Linked DNA regions of Homo sapiens: region 1 is linked to region 2. Evidence: fine-mapped expression QTL. A gene starts in region 2. The other region holds a variant in brackets. All regions are shown on one strand. Distances are from middle to middle.

Region 1 (13,248 bases), 21 kb before region 2:
TTTTTTTTTTTTGAGATGGAGTCTCGCTCTGTCACGCAGGCTGGAGTGCAGTGGCACCATCTCGGCTCACTGCAAGCTCCGCCTCCCAGGTTCACGCCATTCTCCTGCCTCAGCCTCCCGAGTAGCTGGGACTACAGGTGCCCGCCACCACGCCTGGTTAATTTTTTGTATTTTTAGTGGAGATGGGGTTTCACTGTGTTAGCCAGGATGGTCTTGATCTCCTGACCTCGTGATCCACCCACCTCGGCCTCCCAAAGTGCTAGGATTACAGGCATGAGCCACAGCACCCAGCGAACACTGCAATCTTGTTGGAAATTTAAATTAAGAAACATGCAGTGACCAAGTATATCCCCATTATGGGGTATACTGACCCTACCTGGGACCTCTGCAGATGCACTGGTTGAGATATGGAGACAATCCCCCCAGGATACTGGCTACTATGTTCTCAGAAAAATTCTCAGTAAACATATGGGCTGTCAAATATTTGCCCAAATATTGGTTACAGATACTTAAGGGACTGTAATCAATTGCACACCTTAAACTTGTGCTGCTCACTTTTCTCATCAGTAAGTTAAAGAAAATAAAGGAGTAGAATAAAATAGCCTCTGAAGTATCTTTGTTTCTATTTGTCTATAATCTGCTTCTTAAAATTAAATAGAACCTTTTCGTTCAATGATTATCAACTAGATGGGATGTCAGCAAATTACAGCCCAGCACATGAACCAAATCGAGGCTGGTTTTGAACATAAAAGTTTGATTGGTACCAGCCACACCATTTGATTCTGTATTGTCTATGACTGCTTTCCTGCTACAATGGCAGAGGCAAAGTTGAATAGTTGTGTAGTTGCAAAAAGACTATATGTTCCACAAAGCCTAAAATGTTCACTATCTGACAATTTACAGATATCTGCTGACTCCTGAACTAGATGATGAATAACAATTTATATAATTCCAGAAAGCACCGATGCTCTGAGCCCAGTGAGGATAAGTGTTAATTTGACCATAGAAACTAGGGCATCTTATACTTACTTGGGTAAACCTTTAATGCAAGCAGCCAAGTCCTTGGTCATGAAGCCAGCCTCAATTGTCTCAATAGAGACTTCTTCCAAAGCATTTGCAAAGAAGGCAAGCTCTTTATTGTTATCAAGCTTTGCTCTGTGGGCTAACCCTCTGGTCCAGGCAAAAATGGAAGCTAAAAGAGGGGAAAAAAAACACAACACTCCAATCATCCTAGTTATAGAGGTTTCCAAATGTCTCATAGTTCCCCAAAACAGAATAGTTTTTTGTTTAGGTGACAGACTTCTTTAGATACTAACCACATGGGCTAGAAGTTTTAGGAGAGTTAGAAATATTTTACCAAACAGAAACTTTAAAAAAACACATTTTCATGGCATGGTACTAGTGTTTGAAACTTAAGGCATTTTCTAATTTGAAAAAGGTCACAATCTCTTCTATCTCTTGTCTATATTGGTCTCCTTTTTCCAGGCTGTAATCTCTTTTTGAAGTGCTATCTTTGAAACTTGTTAAAAGGATCTATCCATGTGACTTTTAGATTTGTAGCCTTATGTGACATTTCACTGCACCAGAGGTAAAGGAAAATGCTTGTTGATAACATTCCTCTCTGTAACCTATGTTCTCCCACAAAACAGAAAAGCAAATATTGTATATTTTAAGAAGCATATTCAAATAGATCTTACTAGTAGAACAAATCAGCTACTTGGTGATGACTTTGCACACAAAACACTGAGCAGCCAAGGGAACACATCTGGGCTGCTTTGGAGAGCACTCTCTGGTGAGAAATCAATGTAAACACCATCTTACCAATGGGATTGGTGGACGTCTCCTGTCCTTTCTGGTACATGCGGTAGTGACGGGTTACAGTCCCGTGGGCAGCCTCTGCTTCTACTGTCTTGCCATCTGGACAAACCAGCACGCTGGTCATCATGCCGAGAGAGCCATACCCTGTAAGTAGTGGAGCATGAAGCGTTGGGTCCAACTGCATGAAGAGCACTGAGTCTCTCAGAGATGAGAGCATAAATGACTCAATCTTGATAGGTCTTGGTAAGCAAAGTAAACAAGAGCACATGGAATCACCAATAATTCTGCCTTTCAGAAGGCAGGATCCCCGCTCCAGATATCAGAGCCAATGGGTCTGGAAAGGCTGCATTTTCCCCTCACTTATTTCAGGGATACCTACTCCTTGATGGAGGGTTCAGGGTCCAACTGCCTACATTCCACTCTAGTTCTATGACTTCATAGCTACTGCGGCTCAGTTTTCTTATCTGTAAAATGGGAGTAATAACAGCACCTACTTCACTAGGTTGCTGTGGGATTAGATAAATATACATATATTCATAAATATATATGAATATATATTTATATTCCTTAGAATAGTACTGGACACAGAGCTCAATCTATTATTGTTATTCTTATGTGCAATGCTCTGCTGTTCTGGGGAAATAAAGATGGACGAGAGCTGTCTCTTAAGAACCCTCAAGCTGCTCATACACTTGCTGGGACTGGGAAGAGAAGGCAGGTAAACACAGGATCGGTTGGATCTAAGAACATCCCAGTTGCCCTTCCTCGCTCTCTTTCATACCCTCAGTACAACAGTTCTCTTCTGTGGTTTCTTATTGAAAGAACCACATTACAACTCTTATATCTATATAATTGATTTTCTTCTTTTCTCCATTTTTGCTACCTCCCAACATCACCTGTGAAGTTAATAATCAACCACGGAGTCATCACAAAGCAATAACACTCCTTCCTCTGTTGCATTCAGTACAAATGATTGTGAGGATGTAGAGAAACAGAAGGATGGTAAGGAGAGTTGTGTAACTCATTTATCTGGCAAAAAGTTATCTTTAACCAGGTTGATCTACTGATTTTCAAACTGAGAGGAGATGTTTAACACTGATAAGAGACAGAAAAAGTAGTACTTCTTGGGAAAAACAAACATAATTAAAGTTAACAAACATTCATCTGGGGAGATTCAAGTTCATACAGCTACCAAGGGCAACTGAAACTGAAGGGCAACTTGGTGCTGAGGAAACCAGGCGCTGTGTTTCTGTTGATTTGGCCCTTACCCCATGCATGAAACTTCTCCTGGAATTTCTGTAAACAGCCCCTAGGGTTCTTTGCTCAATTGATTTGTGTGTAAGCTAAGCAGTAAACAAAAACACTTTTTCTTTGTTGTTGTTGAGACAAGAGTCTTGCTCTGTTGCCCAGGCTGGAGTATAGTGGCGTGATCTCAGCTCACTGCAACCTCCGCTTCCCAGGCTCAAGAAATTCTCATGCTTTAGCCTCCTGAGTGCCAGGGACTATAGGCATGCGACCACACCTGGCTAATTTTTTTTTTTTTTTTTTTTTGAAGTAGAGATGGGGTTTTGCTATGTTGGCCAGGCTGGTCTTGAACTCCTGGCCTCAAGTGATCCACTGCCTTGGCCTCTCAAAGTGCTAGGATTACAGGCGTGAGCCACTGTGCCCAGCCAAACACATTTGTTTTATATTCTACCAGAACAGCAGCTGGCAGAGGGACATGAGTAGGTCCTGCTGCCCAATAAATGAGCTTTGCAGGCACCAAAGCTTGGTTATGACATGATCAAGCTCCTCACTTTATCCCTCCTTGCCTGAGTGCCCTGGTTTTTTACATTTTCACCAAAGGACAAGGAGGGCAGGGAAAGGGAGTGATTTTCAGATCAGGTAGGCTTTAAAACTTCAAGGAGTGACACTGGAGCCAGGAGTGTCAATCCACTAATTTACTTCCCATGTGGTCTTGAGTAAATCATTTCTCTAGTCTGAGCTTAATTTCCTTAGCTGTCAGGTAAGACGGTGGACCTGGAGGTTTAACATTCCAAGATTTTACAACAAAGGACTACAAAACTCCCCTTCCCAAATTAGAGAACTACCCTGGAATGACCCTGTTCCTACAGGCCAGGCTCCACCTCTGTACCTTGGGCCACAGAGTCCGACTGCACGTCACCATCATAGTTTTTACAGGCCCAGATGAAGCCTCCCTCTGATTTCATAGCTTGGGCCACCATGTCGTCGATGAGCCTATGCTCATACCAGATCTTTTGAGCTTCAAACTGGGACTTGTACTGCCTGGGAAACAAAAGGTAAAAGAGAATAATAATAAAGAAAATTGATTTTGTTAGGGATATCATCTGCTTGTCCCAAACAGAAGACCGGACACACAAGAAGCAGCATATTTTAGTAGAAGTAGCAGAAACTCAGGAATCTGACAGACATTGGCTCAAATCCTAGCCCAATCATTTTCTAACTGTAAAACTCAATTTGACTATCTGTAGGAACAATTTTACCCACCTTGCAGGGAAGCCGTGAGAATTAAGTGAGACAGTAGAGTATCCCAATGACTACTTCACTTTTCAGTTTTCATTATACTATAGATCAGATTCTTGAGATTCAGCTTATTTTTAAAATACATTTTTGAAAAGACTGTTCTACTTCTTGGTGTCATTCAGGAAACTAAAATATATTCCAGACAGTTTCTGGGCTTGGTATAGATGGGCAGCAGGAGGAGGAATCAAAATGCCTCAGGAACATTTTGGCCTGAACACTTGCACCTAAAGGGAGTTATGCCAATCTTAAATATTAACACATGCTCACCTCCTGTGCTGTGGAAGCCAGTGTTGTTATAAACTTAGACTTAAGTTCAAATGACTCCACTAAAACAGAATTTTAAATTCTTTTTTTTCTTTTCTTTTCTTTTTTTTTTTTTGAGACGGAGTCTCGCTCTGTCGCCCAGGCTGCAGTGCAGTGGCGTGATTTCGGCTCACTGCAACCTCCGCCTCCCGGGTTCACGCCATTCTCCTGCCTCAGCCTCCCCAGTAACTGGGACTAGAGGCGCCCGCCACCACGCCCGGCTAATTTTTGGTATTTTTAGTAGAGTCAGGGTTTCACCGTGTTAGCCAGGATGGTCTCGATCTCCTGACCTCGTGATCCGCCCGCCTCGGCCTCCCAAAGTGCTGGGATTACAGGCATGAGCCACCGTGCCTGGCCAACAGAATTTTAAATTCTAACAATGGGCTTCAGAAAGAATGGAAATGGGTCTGACTTAGAAACTCACACATGAAAAATTAGAACTTATCACTAACAGCGTACGTTTATTTAAACATTAAAGAACCTGGCTCTGAAAACAATTCATGTGGGGACCTTATTTAAGAACATGTTTATCTTATAAAAGCAAGTCAGAGTGGTTTTGTTTCACTCCTGCTAAACCTCAGTTTTGCCCTTATCTTTAAGAGACAGTGATGATTTTCACTCAATTTACCCAGAATCATAGGGATAGGGAGATACATACTCTATATGCAAATGTCAGCTTACTTGAGAATAAAGAAAAAGTTAAAAAAGAACTATAGTTACTTGTCATATATCTCCTGAAAGATGTCTTTAAAACGCCCATCATATTTCTTCAGAATAGTGTTTTTGGTGCTCAGATACAAAGGCCAACCCTTAGACAGAGCCATTTGGAAGGAACTGTGTGCAAAATCTTCAATTGACTTATCTTGATTATACATCCCCATGGCAACACCACCACCTTCTGTAGAGGAGAAGCCAGTGAGAGGAAAAAAGGGAGAAGAATAAATGTAATGTAGTTGTAATAAGGCTAAAATCACCCACCACAACCAAATGACCTACTTCTCAGCTCTCACATCTGAGACTAGATTTCAGAAGTCCCAGACAGGTTTCCAACAAATTTCTGAGGCACATAATGAGAGAAAAGCCAGTTCTAGATAAGGACATTCTAACTTGTTTTGGAAGGACAGCAGAAATGAAAAAACATACAGTCTTTAAAATCCTGAAGATGCAGAAATGCCAAAAACTGATATGAACCAGAAATACATTTAAGAAAAGGCAAATAATTTTGAAACTTCTTTTACATACTGATATGGTT[T/C]GGATATTTGTCCCTTCCAAATCTCATGTTGAAATGTGATTCCCAGTGTTGGAGGTGGGGCCCAGTGGGAGGAGATTGGAACATGGGGTTGGATCCCTTATGAATGGCTTAGGACCATCCCCTTTGGTGATTACGTGAGTTCTCGCTCAGTTAATTCACTTGAAATCTGGTTGTTTAAGAGTCTGGGACCTCCCCCTTCTCTTTCTCTTGTTCCCGCTCTTGCCATGTGATACACCTATTGTCTGTTTGCCTTCTGCCAAGATTGGAAGCTTCCTGAGGCCCTCACCAGGAACAGGTGTTGGAGCCAGGCTTGTACAGCCTGCAGAACCATGAGCCAATTAAACCTCTTTTCTTTATAACTTACGCAGCCTCAGGTATTTCTTTATAGCAACGCAAGAATGGACAAACACCCTACCTTTACAATTCCCAACATCTATTTTAAACTTTAGGGGTGTACTCAATCCTCAGTTATTGAGAAAAACTTAAATTTCAAATACTGAATGAAAATTCTTATAATCTCCTGGAGGATACTGAGCACTCCTACTGTAGTTGGTAGAAATAAGTAGAAATAATTATGCTACATGTAATCACTGTGTTTTACAACTATTATTGAACTTTGTTATTACTTAAAGATAGAACTTGAATCCATGCCAATGCTCAGGGTTAACTTGGGTTCAGGGTGAAAGGTGCTGAAGCCTGCAGAACCAGATTCCAACAGATATTATTTGGAAGAGGCAAGAAAAACAAAAGGTAGGTGAGTGTTGGGTATTTTTGTTTGTGTGAGTGCTTTCAACAACTTCAATAGTGAAGGAAAAGGGCCCACTAATTATTTCAACAACTTTTGGGTGGGATTTGCCATCAAAGGTAGCAGGGTAGCTGGGAAAGAAAAGGCAAAAAGCAAATGTTCTACTTTTTCACAGGATAAATACCCAGAAGGGCAAGAAGAAAACTTCAGCAAATATATAAGGAAACCTCTTCCAGATACAAGAGCCCTACCAGAGCAAAGGGCAGGATTATATGCTGGGTGATTTGAGAATATTAATATTTAATGTATATAATTCATGCACAGCAGATTTCTGCCAACCTTCTCTCTGTGCTTTAAGATAAATGCATAATCATCTCCTTGTCTTTGCCTAAAGGCATTTCCAATTAAGTGGGTAACCCTTTTGTGCCTTTATTCATGCCACAGGAAGGTATGGAAGCAAATTACTTCTTTATGTCAAGTTTCGGGTTTTGCAAAAACACTGTAGATTCAGATTATATTTTTAGGCAGTCACATAACTAACAAAAAAAGCAATAAAAATATTATCTAAATCATTTGTTTAAAAAAAAAAGAAGCTTATGCTACAGTCATACATACCTTCAAAGTTATGTACCAGGTATGTCACCTTTTGGGTTCCGTCACTTGGTGTGTAGGTTATCTCTACTTTTCCAGGCCCAGGAACAACAAAATCAGTTGCTCTGTACTGTGTAGAGGGGAAAAAGGTATAAAGAAAAAAAAAATACCCTAGCAGGAATTGTAAGGAGAATATTCATATAATATAGACCTAGAAGACACCTAGACAAATAGGGCAGTATGTCAAACTTCTTTTTTTTTTTTTTTTTTTAGGAGATGGGGATGAAGAGGTCCAGACATTCCCCTAAATCAGTAAATATTTATTAGGTGCCTATACGAGGTATAGGAAAGTTTTCTGAGCACTGATTTGAAGAGGACAGAGAATAACATAAGCCACTTTCCTTTAGGAAGTTTACAACCCTATAAAGACATATATAAGTGAAAAGCAATATAAGAGCTTTCAAATGCCAAAAGAGGGTATTAGACCCCCCCCCCAAAAAAAAAAAAACTATAGGATGACAGAGGAAAAGAGGTGACCATGGAAGGAAGTCAGGGAAGTCTCCCTAGAGGGTGATGATAACAATACTAATTGTAGTACTGAGGTAGCTAATGCTTTGTCCTTACTCTATGCCAGATGCTTTAAATGCTTAACTTGCATAATCTCATTTGATTCTTACATCAGTCTTACAAGGAGGGAACTATGATATAGTAGAAATAATGCATCCAGGGTCAAAGGACTTGAGGTCTCGTCCTTACTTAGGCCATCGGGGCTCGGTCTCTCATGGTATCATTGTTACTAGTGTTATAGGACTTGTTCATATGGAGCAATCAAATCATTCTGGGAGCAGCTACAATGGGATGATGATGATTTTTAGGAAAGGGCTGTTCAAGGACAGGCACCTCCCTCATGGGCCTCAGCTACTCAGTGGAATAATATGCCTGGCATATACTAGACATCCATAAGTCTTTGCTGCATTGTATCTTCTTCAATGAATTGAATCAGATACTTGCAGAGTTAGGTACCAGCAGGTGCCGGCCACATCTATAAGTGTAGAGAAATACTAATAACAACTGGTAAAAGAGCAGTAAGTAACAATAAAGATTAAACACCTACTTTACACAGAACATTTTTGACATATAAAATCCATAAAGTAAATATGGGTGGTAATTTATTACTATTTCTGAAAAGGGAGAAACTGAGGTACCAAAGCACCATAAATGCTTTGTATAGGTTTATGTATATTTAAACAGTCCATGAATCAACCTGAGGTTTGAAATTCTCTTTCTGGACTTTAATAAATAGAATGGCCATTTTTACAAATGACTGATGCCAAAATAATTAAAAAAAAAAAAAAAAAGAGGAAGGCCGGGCATGGTGGCATGCCTGTAATCCCAGCACTTTGGGAGGCGGAGGCGGAGGCGGGCGGATCACAAGGTCAGGAGTTTGAGACCAGCCTGACCAACATGGTGAAACCCCGTCTCTACTAAAAACACAAAAATTAGCCGGGCATGGTAGCATGTGCCTGTAATCCCAGCTACTCAAGAGGCTGAGGCAGGAGAATTGCTTGAACCCGGGAGGCAGAGGTTGCAGTGAGCCAAGATCACACCACTGCACTCCAGCCTGGGCGACAGAGCGAGACTCTGTCTCAAAAACAAAAAACAAAAAGGATATACGCAGAAAAAAGGCACGACTGAACTGGAAAGAATCTAGGGTGATTTTTACAAGATTAGCGAGTTTGCACCACTGCCATCTACCTTCCCTTGCTTGGGCCCCTGGGAGCTATTTCTGAAGGCTTTGGCCAGGATGAAAGGATAGTTTTAGCCACAGAGTGGAACAAAGTTAACTGACCCCTCAAGGACTAAACTGTTTACCCTCAACACACTGTTTTCAATGATGGCTACATTAAAACCTCTGGATTTCAGCATGAGAGATTCCTGTTTTTAAGGTCCTTTTAAGACATAAACTACTTTCTGTGAAAGTCTGAAACCTCAGTTTCAACACTGAACTTTGATTTTGTTTACTTGGCAGTTTTTTTGCTTAATTTGGCAACAAGTGTACTGGTACAGAAGTAAAGAAGCAATACTTTTTTTCCAGGCAGGAAGGAATGCTTTAGTAAGGCTGCTTTCAACTACCGAGTCAGTTTTTTTTTTCTTTTTCTTTTTCGAGACAGGGTCTTGCTCTGTTGCGTAGGCAGTGGTGTGATCATAGCTCATAGCTGTAACCTTGAACTCCTAGGCTTAAGGGATCCTCAGGCCTCAGCCTTCCAAGTAGCTGGGACTATAGGCACATGCCACCCCACTCAGCTTCGCCTACTCACTTTGTATATGAATAAACAAAACTGGCTCTTCCATGAACAATTGACATAATTATTGAAATACTTTTCATTTTTGTAGAGACAGGGTTCTGCTATGTTGTCCAGGCTAGTCTCAAACTCCTGGCCTCAAGCAGTGCTTCCAAATTGGCCTCCAAAGTGCTAGGATTACAGGTGTGAACCATAGTACCCAGCCAGTTTTTTCTTTTATGCATGATGGGATCATGTTTAATACAATCTTTGGTGGTTCTCAAGTTTGCACATTAGATTCACCTGGGGAGCTTTAAAATGCCTGAACCCCATGGAATTCAGATTTTAATTTGTGTAGGGTGGTACTCAAGCATTGAAACTAAAACAAAGAAACAAATCAAGCAAAGCAAAACAAAACCACCAAAAAAACTTGTAAGGGGATCCTATTGTGCAGCCAGTGTTGAAAACCACAGATCTGGTTGAACCATATGAAATTACCAACATAAAAATGGCAATATCATATGGTATAACTGAATAAAAGGATAAAGGAAAAAAAACAGCATGTTTGAAAAAAAATGTGTTGAGATGGACGCCTATTTGTAAGTTTATTTGTATTTGCCTTTAGCTAAATGTGTGTAAATATACAGTTATACATATATGCATTTCTCAATTTCATACCTTGCTTAATGGGTGTAGATACCAAAAGATAAGAATAAAACACATACAAGTTGGAAATTTCTGGGCCATGAAAAAAAAAACATGCAAAATCACATTATTGCCAACATGACTTACTTGATCCCCATAAGCATGACGACCTATGATGATAGGTTTTACCCATCCACTCACAAGCCGGGGGATATTTTTGCAGATAATGGCTTCTCTGAAGACCGTGCCACCCAGAATATTTCGTATGGTGCCATTTGGTGATTTCCACATTTGTTTCAACTTGAACTCCTCAACCCTCTTCTCATCAGGAGTGATAGTGGCACATTTGACGCCAACATTATGCTTCTTTATAGCTTCTGCAGCATCCTTGGTGACTTGGTCGTTGGTGGCATCACGATTCTCTATGCCTAAATCATAGCTTGAAAGAGAAAAATTAGAAGCAAAGTTTTTCAGACAAATGGATAGTTATAACCTACAACTGCAGTGATGGCATATAGAGCTCATTATGCAGAAAGCGAAGGCTCTGAGTACACCAAAATCTGCCAAGTTTTAGCACTGGCACACCCTAAACACAGAAGATGGGTGCCAACTACAAAGAGAACTAAGAGAGGCTAGACTGCTGGGCTGCCCCTCCTCTTGTAATGGGAAGCTGTCTATCAGGAAAATGAATGGAAACCATCAAACTCTGCCCTTTGCCTCCTGTTTTTCACCAGATAGAGGCAATAATGGCCTGGTTTCTCTCCATATAATTAGTATAATAAGTGTAAGTCTAAGGACCACCTTTTTCCCTTAGTAAATATTGCTCTTTAAAAATAAAAGGGGGTGGGAGGGGTTAAAGGATTTTTTGTATTTTGACGTTGAAGTGGTGGGAGGTAAAGATGTGACAGTTGATGCCAAAAATGCGAATGACTACTTCATTAATGCCAGTTAGTCATAAAATGAGCCTTTCCCTTTTTTTTTTTTTTTTAGATGAGTCTCGTTTTGTTGCCCAGGCTGGAGTGCAGTGGCACGATCTTGGCTCACTCAACCTCTGCCTTCCTGGGTTCAAGTGATTCCCCCGCCTCAGCCTCCCCAGTAGCGGGGACTACAGGCATGCACCACCATGCCCAGCTAATTCCTTCTGTAATTCTTGAGCAAGTGTTTGCTCTGGAAACAAGCCTACAATTTATTGGGTAAGTAAAGGAATCCATCAATGGTTTTCTACATACCAGAGAGTAATAGCTTAATATACACCAACACAAAGATTGCAGGTCATTCAGAGCTGAAAGAATGTTAGTTGTCCAGGGAGCATAGAAAATGACTGCAAAGCTTTATTTGAAGCATGCAATAGTTTGTTAAAAAGCAAGAAAACAAAATAATGTTTTGTTTATTCTGTTCTCCAAGGATTTAAAAGGTTTTTCAGCTCTTAAAACCTGCCTCTAGATTTCTTTTTGGTTCCCTTATCTTCCTTTCTTAGATCTCCTACCCAACTCATGATGCAAACAAAGAGATAGTAATCTTGACATATTTCCAAATAAAAATAACTTCCAACTGCTTCGACTTTAGATAATTCATATAAATCTAACAAAGTCATGTCCTTTGTTATCTTCTTGCATAGGAAATGTTGATCCAATCCCAACTCCAACAGGAAGTATGATCAGTAGTTTTCAAGTTCCTAGGAACCATTTCTCATAAGGAGAATCTATCAGCAAATTATTAGATTTTTTGCTTGTCTTCTTAACATTTCTAAGAAGATAAGAAAGGAAGGAACAAATTGCCCAGACCACTGTCCAGCCTACATAAAACAAACTACCTGCTCCATTCTCCTGAAAAAGAACCAGTCAGTGATAATAATAGGAATTTTGGAAAAATTTAAAACTTGTTTGAGCCTCCAAAAATTATCTAGTCTGCAGCCACCAAATTTTTTCCTCCTAGTCATAGTGACTCCCCTTTAAAACTCCTCATGATTCCACACTAAAGAGGCTCAAAGCATCTTTAGTTGCAGCCATTATAAGGAAAAGAACCCTGCCAGTTCACCTACTGTCATGTAAAGTCCTGAAACAGGAGTTCCTAAGATGCTTTTTTTTTTTAACCTAGTTGGAAGATGTTTTTATGCCTAATTTCTTATGTTTGGTTGACTTCTGCAAGTATTTATATCTTATCATGATTTCAATATAGACATCAGCAGCTTAGGTTTAGAACAATTAAAAAGTATGTTTAATGACATTATGTGAATTAAATGTCTCCACTCAAACAGGTCCTTAGGACAAATTTTGATGACTAATTCTGGGCTGAGGCAAACACACTTAGAGTTGCCAATAGTTTGGCTGAAACGTGTTGCTCAATATTTTTCTATGCCAGTCTTCAGCCACTTTACCCTTTTAAAAATTCTATCTCTACCTAAAGGTACAAAGAACAGAAGCAAGTTTATGAAAAACACAGCGAAAAAAATGAGAGAATTACATAGACTTTTGCATCTGTCCCCAGGCACTTTACACACAGGGCAAAGGGACACAGGATTTAAGGGAATTTTGCTGGAAAGGAGGGGTTCAACTAAGAAACATCATGAATTCTTTCTGCACTACAATTGTATGAAAAGGGCAAAAGGTGAGGCATGAAAAGGAAACAGGTCCATTGACTAAGTAAAGTGATAGAAAATTGAGTTTGAAATGACAAAATTGTGTTAACTGCATTTAGTTTACTGTTTCTTACATCCTCTCTTATTTCCCTTTTCTCAATACATTGTACTATTCTTAGCCACTGTTTTATTACAAATAAAACCTTCACAGGAAACAGAAGGTTAGAAGAATCTGAAAATCATTCTTTCCCTTATAATTCTTGACTTTTAGATGATAAATCCAGTTTTTCTAGCAGTATGTTAAAATTAGAAGATTCATCTGAATATATTTAGGCTTAAAACAAACTTTATTCACAAAACACAGCTATATCTATATAAAAAAAGCTAACTTCACCTCAAAATAATTCAGATTATATTCTTTTTTTTTTTCCTGTTTCTCCTTCCCTTTTTTTTCCTTTTTTTTTTAAAGTGATGGGGTCTCACTCTGTTG
Region 2 (11,803 bases):
AGTTGAAGACAGAGTATATATTATCTAGGACTTCAAAGTAAGGAGAAAAGTCAATCTCAGTGAGAACTCTGAGGGACACTTACGTCTTAAAGGTCAGGTAGAGGAAAAGGAGCCCCCACAAAGAGAATGAGAAGGAGAGTCTGGGGGTTAACAAAGAATCAGCAGAGCCTGATGTCATAGAAGCCAACAGACAAGAAAGTTTTCAAAAAAGAGGGAGTACTACAGAGAGATTAAAAGAAAAAGACAGGGTCTGAAAATAATTTTGGCAAAAGGAAAACCTCTTGAATGCACTTTTAGTAAAAAGGCTCTATGAGGATGAAGAAGATAGAAGTGGAATGGTTCTACGAGGATCAGAAGATAGAAGCCATACTACAGGGGACTGAAGCATGAATGGGGGGTATGGAAAGGGAGACAAGAAAACCTTTTCAAGAAGGTTGATTGTAAAGTGAAGAAAAACACTTTTTTATTTTTGATACGGAGTCTGGCTCTGTCACCCAGGCTGGAGTGCAGTGGCACGATCTTGGCTTACTGCAACCTCCACCTCTACGGTTCAAGTGATTCTCCTGCCTCAGTCTCCTGAGCAGCTGGGATTACAGGCGCGGGCCACCACGCCTGGCTAATTTTTGTATTTTTAGCAGAGATGGGGTTTCACCATATTGGCCAGGCTGGTCTTGAACTCCTGACCTCAAGTGATCTGCCCGCCTTGGCATCCCCAAGTGTTGGGATTACTGGCGTGAGCCACCACGCCTGGCGGAAAAATGCTTTTAAAAGTCTTAGTCAACATACTATTGATGTCTACATATTTTAAAAAATTATTTGTATTACTTCCATGTTGGTTGTGTTGGTTAGAATGGATTTGATTATATTGCTTTCATGTCATTTGTGTTGGTTTGTATTGGATGTTTCCTTTTTGTTTCTTTAATGTTTAAATGGCTGTGACAAATGTCTTTATCTTCCTTTTTTAAAACACAGATCAATTCTTTGGGCTACATTGCTAGAATGGGAATTATTAGATCATGAAGTATAAATATATTTAAGGTGCTTGTTAAATCCACCAAATCATTTTCTAGGGGGGAATATACCAATTTATATTTTCACATGCAGTGTAAGAGAGTGCTAATTTTATTGCATCCTAGCTGGAACTTAGTTTCATAATTTTTACAAACATGTCTGCATCCCTACTAAAAGGAATTGGTGCTCCTTTGAGAGCTGATTGATTCTAGGCCCGGGGCAGGGAAAGTTCAAGATGAGCCTGCTGGGTCAAAAAGTAAGGAAGTGCTCTCAACAAATTAGGTATAGCAAGAATATGCCTCAACACAATAAAGGTTATATATGACAAACCAACAGTTAACATCATTTCAACAGTAAAAAAGAGCTTTTCCTCTAAGGTCAGGAACACGACCAAGACATGCACTCTTGCCACTTCTATTTAACATAGTACTAGAAGTCCTAGTCAGGGCAATTAGGCAAAAGAATGAAATAAAAGGCATCCAAATTGAAAAGGAAGAAATTAAATTGTACCTGTTTGCAGATGACATGATTTTTTTGTTTTTTTTGGAGACAGAGTGTTACTCTGTCACCCAGGCTGGAGTGCAGCAGTGAGATCTCGGCTCACTGCAACCTCTGCCTCCTGGGTTCAAGAAATTCTCCTGCCTCAGCCTCCTGAGTAGCTGGGACTACAGGCATGCGCCACCATGCCTGGCTAATTTTTCTATTTTTAGTAGAGATGGGGTTTCAGCATGTTGGCCAGGCTGGTCTCGAACTCCTGACCTCATGATCTGCCCACCTCTGCCTCCCAAAGTGCTGGGATTACAGGCGTGAGCCACCACACCTGGCAGGTTACATGATCTTATACATAAAAAACCCTAAAGACTGCACCAAAAAACTATTAGAATAAACAAATTTAGTAATGTTGTAGGATATAAAATCAGTATACAAAAATGAGTACTGTTTCCAAATATTAACAGTGAACTATCTGAAAGAGAAATCAATAAAACAATCCTATTTGCAATAGCTACAAAAATATATTAAAATACTTAGAAATAAATACGGGCCAGGTGTGGTGGCTCACACCTGTAATCCCAGCACTTTGGGAGGCCAAGGCAGGCGAAGCACGAGGTCAGGGGTTTGAGACCAGCCTGGCCAACATGGTGAAACCCCGTCTCTACTAAAAATACAAAAAAATTAGCTGGGCGTAGTGGTGGGCACCTGTAATCCCAGCTACTCAGGAGGCTGAGGCAGGAGAATTGCTTGAACCTGGGAGGCGGAGGTTGCAGTGAGCCGAGATGGCCCCACTGCACTCCAGCCCGGGTGACACAGTGAGACTCCATCTCAAAAAAAAAAAAAAAAAAAAGAAAGAAATTTAACAGAAGTAAAAGACCCGCACACTGAAACCTATAAAACATTGATGAAAGAAACTGAAGAAGACAGAAATAAATAAAAAGACATCTCATGTTTATGGGTTGAAAGAATTAATATTGTTAAAATGTCCAAAGTGATCCACAGATTCAATGCAATCCCTATAAAAATTCCAATGACTTTTTCGCACAGCTAGAAAAAAAAGTCTAAAATTCCTATGGAATGACAAAAGAGGCTGAATAGCTAAAGAATTCTTGAGCAAAAAGAACAAAGCTAGAAGCATCATACTGCTTGATCTCAAAATACACTACAAAGCTACAGTAATCAGAACAGCATGGTACTGGCAGAGAAACAGACAAACCAACTGAACAGAATAAAGAGTCTATCAGTTAATAGGATGCTCATTTTTAAAAAAAAATAAAAAGTGAAAAAAAGAATAAAGAGTCCAGAAGTAAATTTACCCATTTACAGTCAATTGTTCAATAAGGGGACAAGAATACACTATAGGGAAAGGATATTCTCTTCAATAAGTAGTAATGGGTAAATGGGATATCCATATGCAGGAGAATGAAATTAGAGGCTTATCTCATACCATATATAATAATCAACTCAAATAAATTGAAGACGTTATGTGTACCCCCTGAAACTGTAAAAAACGAGAGGGAAAAGCTCCATGACATTGGTCTGAGTAGTGATTTTTTAGATATGACCCCAAAAGCACAGGCTACAAAAGCCAAATAGACAAATGGGATTACATAAAACTGAGAAGTTTCTACAGAGCAAGGGTTACAATAGACAGACTGAAGAGACAACAGAGAACAGGAGCAAATATTTGCCAGCCATACATCTGATAAAGGGATAATATCCAAAATATATAAGGAACTCAAACAACTCAATAGTAAGAAAGCAAATAATCTGATTATAAAATGGGCAAAGGATGTGAATAGACATTTCTCAAAAGAGGACATACAAATGGCCAACAGGTATATGAAAAAAAGTTCAACGTAATTAATCATCAGACAAATGCAAATTAAAACCACAATGAGAGATATCACTTCACACCTATTACAATGGCTATATCAAAAAGACAAAAGATAACAAGATTGGAGAGAAAATAGAGAAAAGGAAACCCTTGCACACTGTTGGTAGGAATGCAAATTAGTACAGCCATTATGGAAAACAGTATGGAAGTTGCCAAAAAATTTAAAAATAAAACTATCATGTGATCCAGCCATCCCACTACAGGGTATATATCCAAAGGAAATAAAATCACTATTTTTTCTTTTATTGAAATTAAAAAAAATCTTTTTATAGAGATGGGGTCTTGCTATGTTGACCAGGCTGGTGTTGAACTCCTGGCTTCAAGCAATCCTTCCATCTTGGCCTCCCAAAGTGCTAGGATTACAGGCGCGAGCCACCGTGTCCAGCCAAAATCACTATTTTTAAGAGGTATCTGCACTCCCATCTTTATTGCAGCATTATTCACAATAGCCAAGATATGAAATCAACCTAAGTGTCCATCAATGAACAACTGAATAAAGAAAATGTGGGGCTGGGCACTGTGGCTCACGCCGGTAATCCCAGCACTTTGGGAGGCTGAGGCAGGTGGATCACGAGGTCAGGGGTTCAAGACCAGCCTGGCCAAGACAGTGAAACCCCGTCTCTACTAAAAATACAAAAATTAGCCAGGTGCAGTGACAGGCGCCTGTAATCCCAGCTACTCGGGAGGCTGAGGCAGGAGAATAGGGGTGGGGTGGAGGTCGGGGGGGTTGGGGCAGAGGGTGGAGATTGCAGTAAGCCCAGATTGCACCACTGTACTCCAGCCTTGGTGACAGACTCCATGTCAAAAAAATAAAATAAAATGTGGTATATATATACGGTGGAACATTATTCAGCCTTAAAAAATAAGGAAATTCTGTCTTTTGTGACAACATGGATGAACCTGGGGACATTATGTTAAGTGAAATAAACCAGACACAGAAATATACCACAAGATCTCATATATATGGAATTTAAAAATGTTGAACTCATAGAAGTAGTGGGTAGAATGGTGGTTGCCAGGGGTAAGGGGTGGCGGAGAGAGAAAAAGAACAAAAAGTAAGATGTGCTCAAAAGGTAATGGAGGCATGTCAAATGGACTCAGGAGTCTGCTGGAAGGGGCTCACACCAGCCAAGGCGGGGACACCTGGAGCACAGAAATGAATAGTGGCAGTAATGAACTATAACATGTTGGAAAAAAATGAGTCCAAAGTCATACTAACCAATATAAAGAAAGAAAGAAAAAGATGGAACGCTATTAGTTGCAGTAAAATTCAACTAATACATACAGAGGAATAGAAGTATAATATCATCGAACAATAATTGATTCAGCAAGAATCCTAAATCTGTGCTTGAATGAAAGTTTTTGAGGAGGATATATACACAGACAAATAATCTCTCTACAGATAAAATTCATCTGGAATTAATTTTGGATGTCTAGTGTGAAGTGAGAATCTAAAATGATTTCTTTTGCAAAAACAGTAGCCCAGTTTTCAATCTCTTTTCCACAGAAATTAAACTGTAAGCTAATATAGATATTAGACGGTAAGCTTCTTGAGGACATGGACTGTGTAATGTTCACATATATTTTTATTTTTTAGGCTAGTCAAGTGAAGCAGTGGGATACGTTCATAATTCTATCCTTAGTGTAGTGCTTCTATAACTAACACACTGCAGGTTAAATTAGGGACTCAAAAATATTTGCGGAGTGCACTTTTTTTTTTTTTTTTTAAACCATAGATGGAGTTTCTACATACACTGCAGTCGTCGTGGCTGGGCAATTTATTCTTTTCATATGATCTCTGTACCTATTTCATACTTTATTGTAGGTTTATGAAATATTAACATAGGGTGATAATTACGAGGGCCTTTTTTGCTTATCTTAAATTTTTAAAAAAAATTTTTTTAAAGGAAGGCAGAGACTTGAGCATCTTTATGGGCTGAGGAGGCAGAGTCATTGGAAAAGGGGAGGTTGCAGATACGGTGCAAGCTCCCAGACAGGAGAGGGTGAATTGGGGGCCAAAAGGATTGAGCTGGGGAAGAAGAGGCCCCTTCCTCAGAGAGATGAGGGAGAAAGGCAGACCAGGGCAGATGTGGATGTAGGTAAATGTTGTGGTGTGTGGGGAATTAGCTTGTTAAGGGTCACGCCCAGATACCTTGGGATTTTTCACGTGGGTATAAAATATGATTCTCTGATGAGAATGATGGTCAAGGTAATGTGGGGGTCGTGGTGGTGGTCTGACGCAGCAGTAATAAGGAATGGGAGAAGCTGACTACAGACTCCCAGAAAGATTGCTGAAGGGCCCAGCTGAGGATGGTGACTGGGATTTGCACTGGACTCAACCTGCAGGTTTCGATGGTGCTTTCCAACTCCAGGAAAACTGGGCTGGGATTTGACAAAACTCTTGAGGAAAAGGACTCACAGAATTTAAAACTGCATTTCCCTTTAGGTTTCGTCTGCTTTCCATCCTCCCCTACCAAGCCCCACAACTGCGGCGAGCATGTTTTCTGCAGTTAACTGCACTGCGCTCTCAGCAGGACAGAAATGACGAATAACTCTAGCCAAGCTGAACAAGATAGGGCTTGGGCTTGGTAACTTTATTTGCATCAGCATTTGCAACACAACACCTAAATGAAAAAATTAACTATAAAGCCGACATCACTTACTCTGGGTCAGGGAACTGTGCCATTCGCTTTAAGTGCATTTACTTAATCTCAAAAAAGTATTAAGAAGTGAGTCCTTTTATTAATCCGACTTTACACACCAGAGGTCTAAGGCCTAAATAAATGAGCAATTTGCTTAAGATCATATGGCTGGTTATTGGTGGAGTCATGCAAGTCTGGAAACAGAGTCATCGCTAACTCCGGTTCAGTGCTACACGAGTGAACTGTCTACAACAAAGCAATAACATATTATGAGTGCCCACAGTATCGAACACATACGGTAACCGCAGTCCAGCCAGCACCCCTGCAGTGCCCAGAGCACCAAGCACCCATCCGTTGACCCCGCATGCGTGACGCTCACGCGCGCAGTCCCCCTGGCTTCTTCCAGGAAGGCTGAAGCGGCCTAATCTCGGCCAAAAGATCAGGACGACTCGATCTGGGCTGGACTCCTTCTGCCTGAGCATCTGATCCGAGCGTCGGCCGGGCTGGGAGGAGCCGGCCCCCGGGAAAGATTTCGGACTGGGGGACAGGAAAACAGAGGGCGGAGTCTTGGGGGGGGGAAGCGAGAAGCCGCATCAACCATGTAAGCAGCTTCGCTTCCTGCCGCAACCGTCCGCGGCCTGAGGAGCCCACCGCCGCTCTCGGGGGCCGACTTCCGGGGGCTGAGCCGTTGAAGCGGAGGCTGGGGCGGGGGGCAGCCGGCGCGGCCGGGGCAGGAGGCGCAGGTAAGGGAGGGGGCCTGGAGCTTGGCCGGCTGGGGCTCAGCATGGGAAGGAGGCCGGTATGGGGAGCTCCAGGGCCAGAGCTGAGGTGAAAGTGAGAACCAGGGCTCCGCAGTCGGGGGCTAGGGCCTGGCTGCCGGCTGAGCAAGGAAGGGCAGAGAATCTGGCTTTAGAATTAGCTTGTCCTCCCTATTCCCCGGCTGCCTTGTCTGGCGAGTGGGGACGGAAGCCGGGTGGGGCCCTTGAGATTTCCTTGGAAACATTTGAAGTTCCTTTGCCTCTCTCTCGACCCTTACGCCTGAACTTAATTAGGAGGGGAAGAGTACAGTTACTTTTCCCTCTGAGTGCATGAGTTCTGAGTTTGTCAGAGGCGCATCCGTAGGCTGGAAAAGAAAGTTCATGAGCTGCAGAAACGATACCAACCGTGGGGGTTCAAATAAGTGTTTGTCTTTTTAAATGCTTGCCTCTGCTATTTGAGACGATTCCATTTCAACTTAGGTTTTGGAGTTTCTTGAGGAGGAGCATTATTTCCCAATTAGTGTTTACCCTTTGCTTAGAATGTTCCCAACAAAAGGATGAGAATGGAATGTGTTGGAAACTTTTAGGACTTAGGGGTTTTCTGCCCAATCAGAGGTTATTCCTAAGACAGTCAAGAAATATAAGAAGTGCTAGAATTCTGTATAAAGCAAGTTATTCGTGTGTATCTGATGTGTATACATGATTCATTATCTACTATTGACGCAGTGCATCCTGTGTTGTAAAATATGTCCAGTGTTGACAATAGAGGTAGTCGCTTGGTATAATGTACTTATTTCTGATTTATTTGAGCCCCTTTTTTGGCACTCCAAAACTCCCACTCTGTCAGTTTTCTTACAAAAAATGTTCTTTCTTTTGTGTTTGTGACAAAGATTGTGTAGGTTAAATCTCTTCTGTGGAGCAAGGCTAATTTCCTGTGTTCTCCCTTTTTCTGCTTTCTGGATCCTGCTCTGGTTTTCCTTTAAGCGTGTTGGTCAAAAATTGAACAAGAAATCTTTGTTGATAGAAGCTAACATTTCCAATATTCAGCTTTCCTAAATTATTACATTGCCAGTTTTTTTTTTTTTTTTTTTTGAGAGACAGAGTCTCGCTCTGTCCCCCAGGTTGGAGTGCAGTGGCGCGATCTCCTCCGACTGCAACCTCCGCCTCCCAGGGTTCAGGCGATTCTCCTGCCTCAGCCTCCTGAGTAGCTAGATTGCAGGCGCGCGACACCACACTCGGCTAATTTTTGTATTTTTAGGGGAGACGGGGTTTCACCATGTTAGCGAAGCTGGTTTTGAATTCCTGACCTCAGGCGATTCACCCGCCTCGGCCTCCCAAGGTGCTGGGATTACAGGCGTGAGCCACCGGGCGGGGGTCTCCCTCCCTCGCCCAGGCTGGAGTGAAGTGGTGTGATCTCGGCTTACTGCAGTCTCCGCCTCCCAGGCTCAAGGGATTCTCCTGCCTCGGCCTCCCAAAGTGCTGGGATCACAGGTGTGAGCAGCCACGTCCGGCCTTTACTGACTGGCTTCTGATAGTTTGTAGTAGGTCTGCATATATTAGTAGCCTTAATTAGAAATGGTGAAGTATTGGTGATATATCAGAAGGCTTTGGGTAGGTAGGTTAATAGGACTGATTACCACTCAGGAAAGAGTCCTAATTTATATTTTAAAGCGTTGTTAAGCTGCTAAAGAGTGAGAGTTATAAGATAATTTTTTCAGGGCCCTAGTGTCATTATGTAATTATTAGGGTTAACTATATGATTGGGTTTATATTTCAGAGACTACACTTGCTAAGTGTTTTCATGGGAATTTTTATCTTCTTATTTCCAAAGCCGAGTATAATTTTTGTGTAGATAACCTTTAGAAGTAATTCTAAGACTCTTTAGGCAGAATGTCATCTCTGCCTCTGACATTACTTGTGTCAAAGTAGAATGTAGGCTGTTTTCCAGGGGTGGTTGTTACGGCCATCACATTATCGTTTCTCTCCAGAGCTCTTTTTTTTTTTTTTTTTTTTTTCCCTAAATAAAATAGAGATGAAGTCTCGCTATGTTGACTAGGCTGGTCTGGAACTCCTGGCCTCAAGCGATCCTCCCGTCTCAGCCTCCTAAAGTGCTGGGATTACAGACATGAGGCCACAGTGCCTGGCCTCTTTTTTTTTTTAATATAAAAAAAACACAAACTTTTTTTTGAGTGTATACTTATTCAGTTATCAGCTTACTTCCCAACACTTTTTGCTGAATTGTCATGACACTTCAGAAGGATTGTTGATGATTATTCTCAGTGGAAGATATTAGAAACCTTCCTTCCCCTTCTTCTTCCTTTTCTCCTTCCTCTTTCCTTCCCCTTCCTCTTCCTCTTTTTCTTCCCCCCCCAATAAACATGTATTGCCAAAATTCTGTTTAAGTCAGTGGTTTCATTTCTGCCTTAATTTATTAATTAAATTATTGATCAGACAAAGCCTTAAGTAGTTAGAGAACGCGGATAGGCTAAAAGGGAAGTGTGAAGAGCTACAAAAGTAATTTTGATTTAGGTAATACTTTTGGGGTGAGACTTGGGGTATAGTGACAGTTCTACTAATGTCTGTGTGACCCCCAAGAAAGTTGTTTTAGGTTCAGAGTACCTTGGTTGCCTCAAAGGTAAAATGTCATAAAGCCAGCTGTGTGTGCCTTCCAGGATTGTAAGAGTAAAATGAGATGGTAGCTATGATTTTGAATGTGAAAAGCATTTTACCGAGACTGTAATGTCCTCTTTGTAAAGTGGAGACTAGATTATAAACTATAGTATATATATTGTTTTCTCCAAGGGAGGAACCTTGTCTTTATTTTGAAACAGTAGGTAGCCTCCTGGTGGCTGGAACATGCTTCTGCCTGCAGGGGGCCCATTGTCTGGGCCCTAGGGATCTACAGAGCTCAGTAGGCTTAGGAAGTGTTTCAGGAAGGCCTCCTAGTTGATGCTGTCCTCATGTCCTGCCAGAACAGTCTCCATCTCCTCCTCAGCCATCTTCCCTCCCAGGGTGGTGAGGACTTGTCTGAGCTCTGCTCCCGTGACTTTGCTGTTCCCCTCCTTGACTAACACATGAAGCCCCTCCAGGTAGTCCTCATATGTGCCTTGGTTCTGCTTCTTGGCTGCTGCCTGGAGCATGGGCAGGAAAGTCTTGAAGTCCACATGCCGGGACTTCAGGTCATCACTCTTGGGGTTCCCCAGGACCTTCATCACCTTGGCACTGGTGAGGTTCTGGTCCAGGGCCCCCATCATGTCCCCAAACTGGCTGTATGGGATCTTGCCATCCCCCACTCAGTTAAACAGCTTGAAGGCCACCTTGAACTCCTCCAGCTGATCCTTGTTAAACTTGATCACCACTTTGGAGAGATCAACTGGGGGCTCCTTGGTTTTCTCAGGGGCCTGGGGGATGGGATAGCTGGCTCAGCTTTGGTCTTGGCTGGAGGGGCCCATGCTGCTGCTGGCTTGGCAGCACCTTTGGAGATGGAGGGCCCTGCTGGTTCCTCCCAGAATATCCTTGGGAGGCATGATGTCTGGTGGCCAAAGGACAGTGTGCGGATGGGGGCACCCATCTCTTGCAGGGTCCGTGTCTGGGCCAGACTACAGTATTTTTTTTTTTTTTTTTTTTTTGTGGATGGAGTTTTGCTCTTATTGCCCAGGCTGGAGTGCAGTGGCGTGATCGGCTCGCTGTAACCTCCGCCTCCTGGGTTCCAGCGATTCTCCTGCCTCAGCCTCCTGAGTAGCTGGGATTACAGGTACCCGCCACCATGTCCAGCTAATTTTTGTATTTTTGGTAGAGATGGGGTTTCACCATGTTGGCCAGGCTGGTCTCGAACTCCTGACTTCAGGTGATCCGTCCACTTCGGCCTCCCAAAGTGCTGGGATTATAGGTGTGAGCCACCGTGCCTGGACCAGTCTACATTATTTTAATGATTAGAGTTATCCATGGTTCTTCTCTTTGAAATATAAATCAATATGGCAGAAAATAGTACTTTTCTGTAACTTCCATCTGGTGATGTGGTTAGCTTTATTGCTTTGGTTGAAATATGATTTTTTGGTTATTTAGAAACAAAGCCCTTTAAGAAGATCTTCATCTTAATGTCTATGAATTGAGGCTTAAAGGGAGGAAAAACCAGGTTCATGTGTTTAGGAGCAAAGATAGTGGGGAACAACTTGTTGATTTGAGTAGTTGTCATAGGTCATGAAGTGTAGCTTGAGGTAATTGTTAAAGTTTTGTAGACATGTCATTAGAGAATGACTTTCATGTCCTCGTCTTAGAAATATAATGATTTTTATATTACTTTTTAAAATATAAAAGTTGAGGCCAGGCATGGTGGCTCATGCCTGTAATCCCAGCACTTTGGGAGGCTGAGGCGGGTGGATTACCTGAAGTCAGGAGTTGGAGACCAGCCTGGCCAACATGGTGAAACCCCATCTCTACTGAAAATACAAAAAATTAACTGGGCGTGGTGACTGCGCACCTATAGTCCCAGCTACTCAGGAGGCTGAGGCAGGAGGATCACTTGAACCTGGGAGGTGGAGGTTGCAGTGAGCCAGGATCACGCCACTGCACTCCAGTCTGGGCGACAGAGCAAGACTCCATCTCCAAAAAAAAAAAAAAAAAGTTGAAATAAGGAAAATAAGACTGAAGAATTTATGTGTGTGTTGTATAACTAGCTTCCCCCCATAACTTTAAAAAGCTGTTGTGTATCCCTTCTTCCGAAACATCTTAAAATGAAAGAGCTAGAAATGATGTGAAAATGCTTATTTTTCTTCTGCCTGCTCACATTAATGCTTTACCTCCAAATTTTTATTAATTTAAATCTTTTCTATAATTTGAATAGTAATGTTTAAAATTGAGTTGGCTATCAGATCATAGTTGTAGATGATTGGGGCTCTTATGATTTAGATAGCAGTGTTTTCAGTCCTTTGGAATATATGAAGCTAGATTTATTTACTGTTTGTTTTCATAGTCTGACTTTTCACAGAATAGGATTTTCTGGA

The links. PIP is the estimated chance that this variant, and not a neighbour inherited with it, causes the effect.
Region 1: its variant is fine-mapped to the expression of PIKFYVE in blood mononuclear cells (TOPMed, PIP 0.96). The same link has a PIP of 0.9 or more in fibroblasts.

What each region holds. Positions count from the first base shown.
Region 1 is chr2:208,238,042-208,251,289 of GRCh38, forward strand. IDH1 (isocitrate dehydrogenase (NADP(+)) 1) reads right to left here. Exons shown (of 10, transcript NM_005896.4): 4 at 10,328-10,619; 5 at 7,278-7,383; 6 at 5,386-5,563; 7 at 3,953-4,104; 8 at 1,822-1,962; 9 at 1,030-1,192. Among named protein-coding and RNA genes, the nearest start is that of IDH1, 10 kb to the right of the region's middle. The variant T/C (reference allele first, on the strand shown) is at 5,918.
Region 2 is chr2:208,259,631-208,271,433 of GRCh38, forward strand. PIKFYVE (phosphoinositide kinase, FYVE-type zinc finger containing) reads left to right here and starts at 6,625. Exons shown (of 42, transcript NM_015040.4): 1 at 6,625-6,785. It also overlaps the pseudogene MYL6BP1. RefSeq lists enhancers at 6,462-6,511, 9,845-10,346 and a silencer at 6,642-6,911.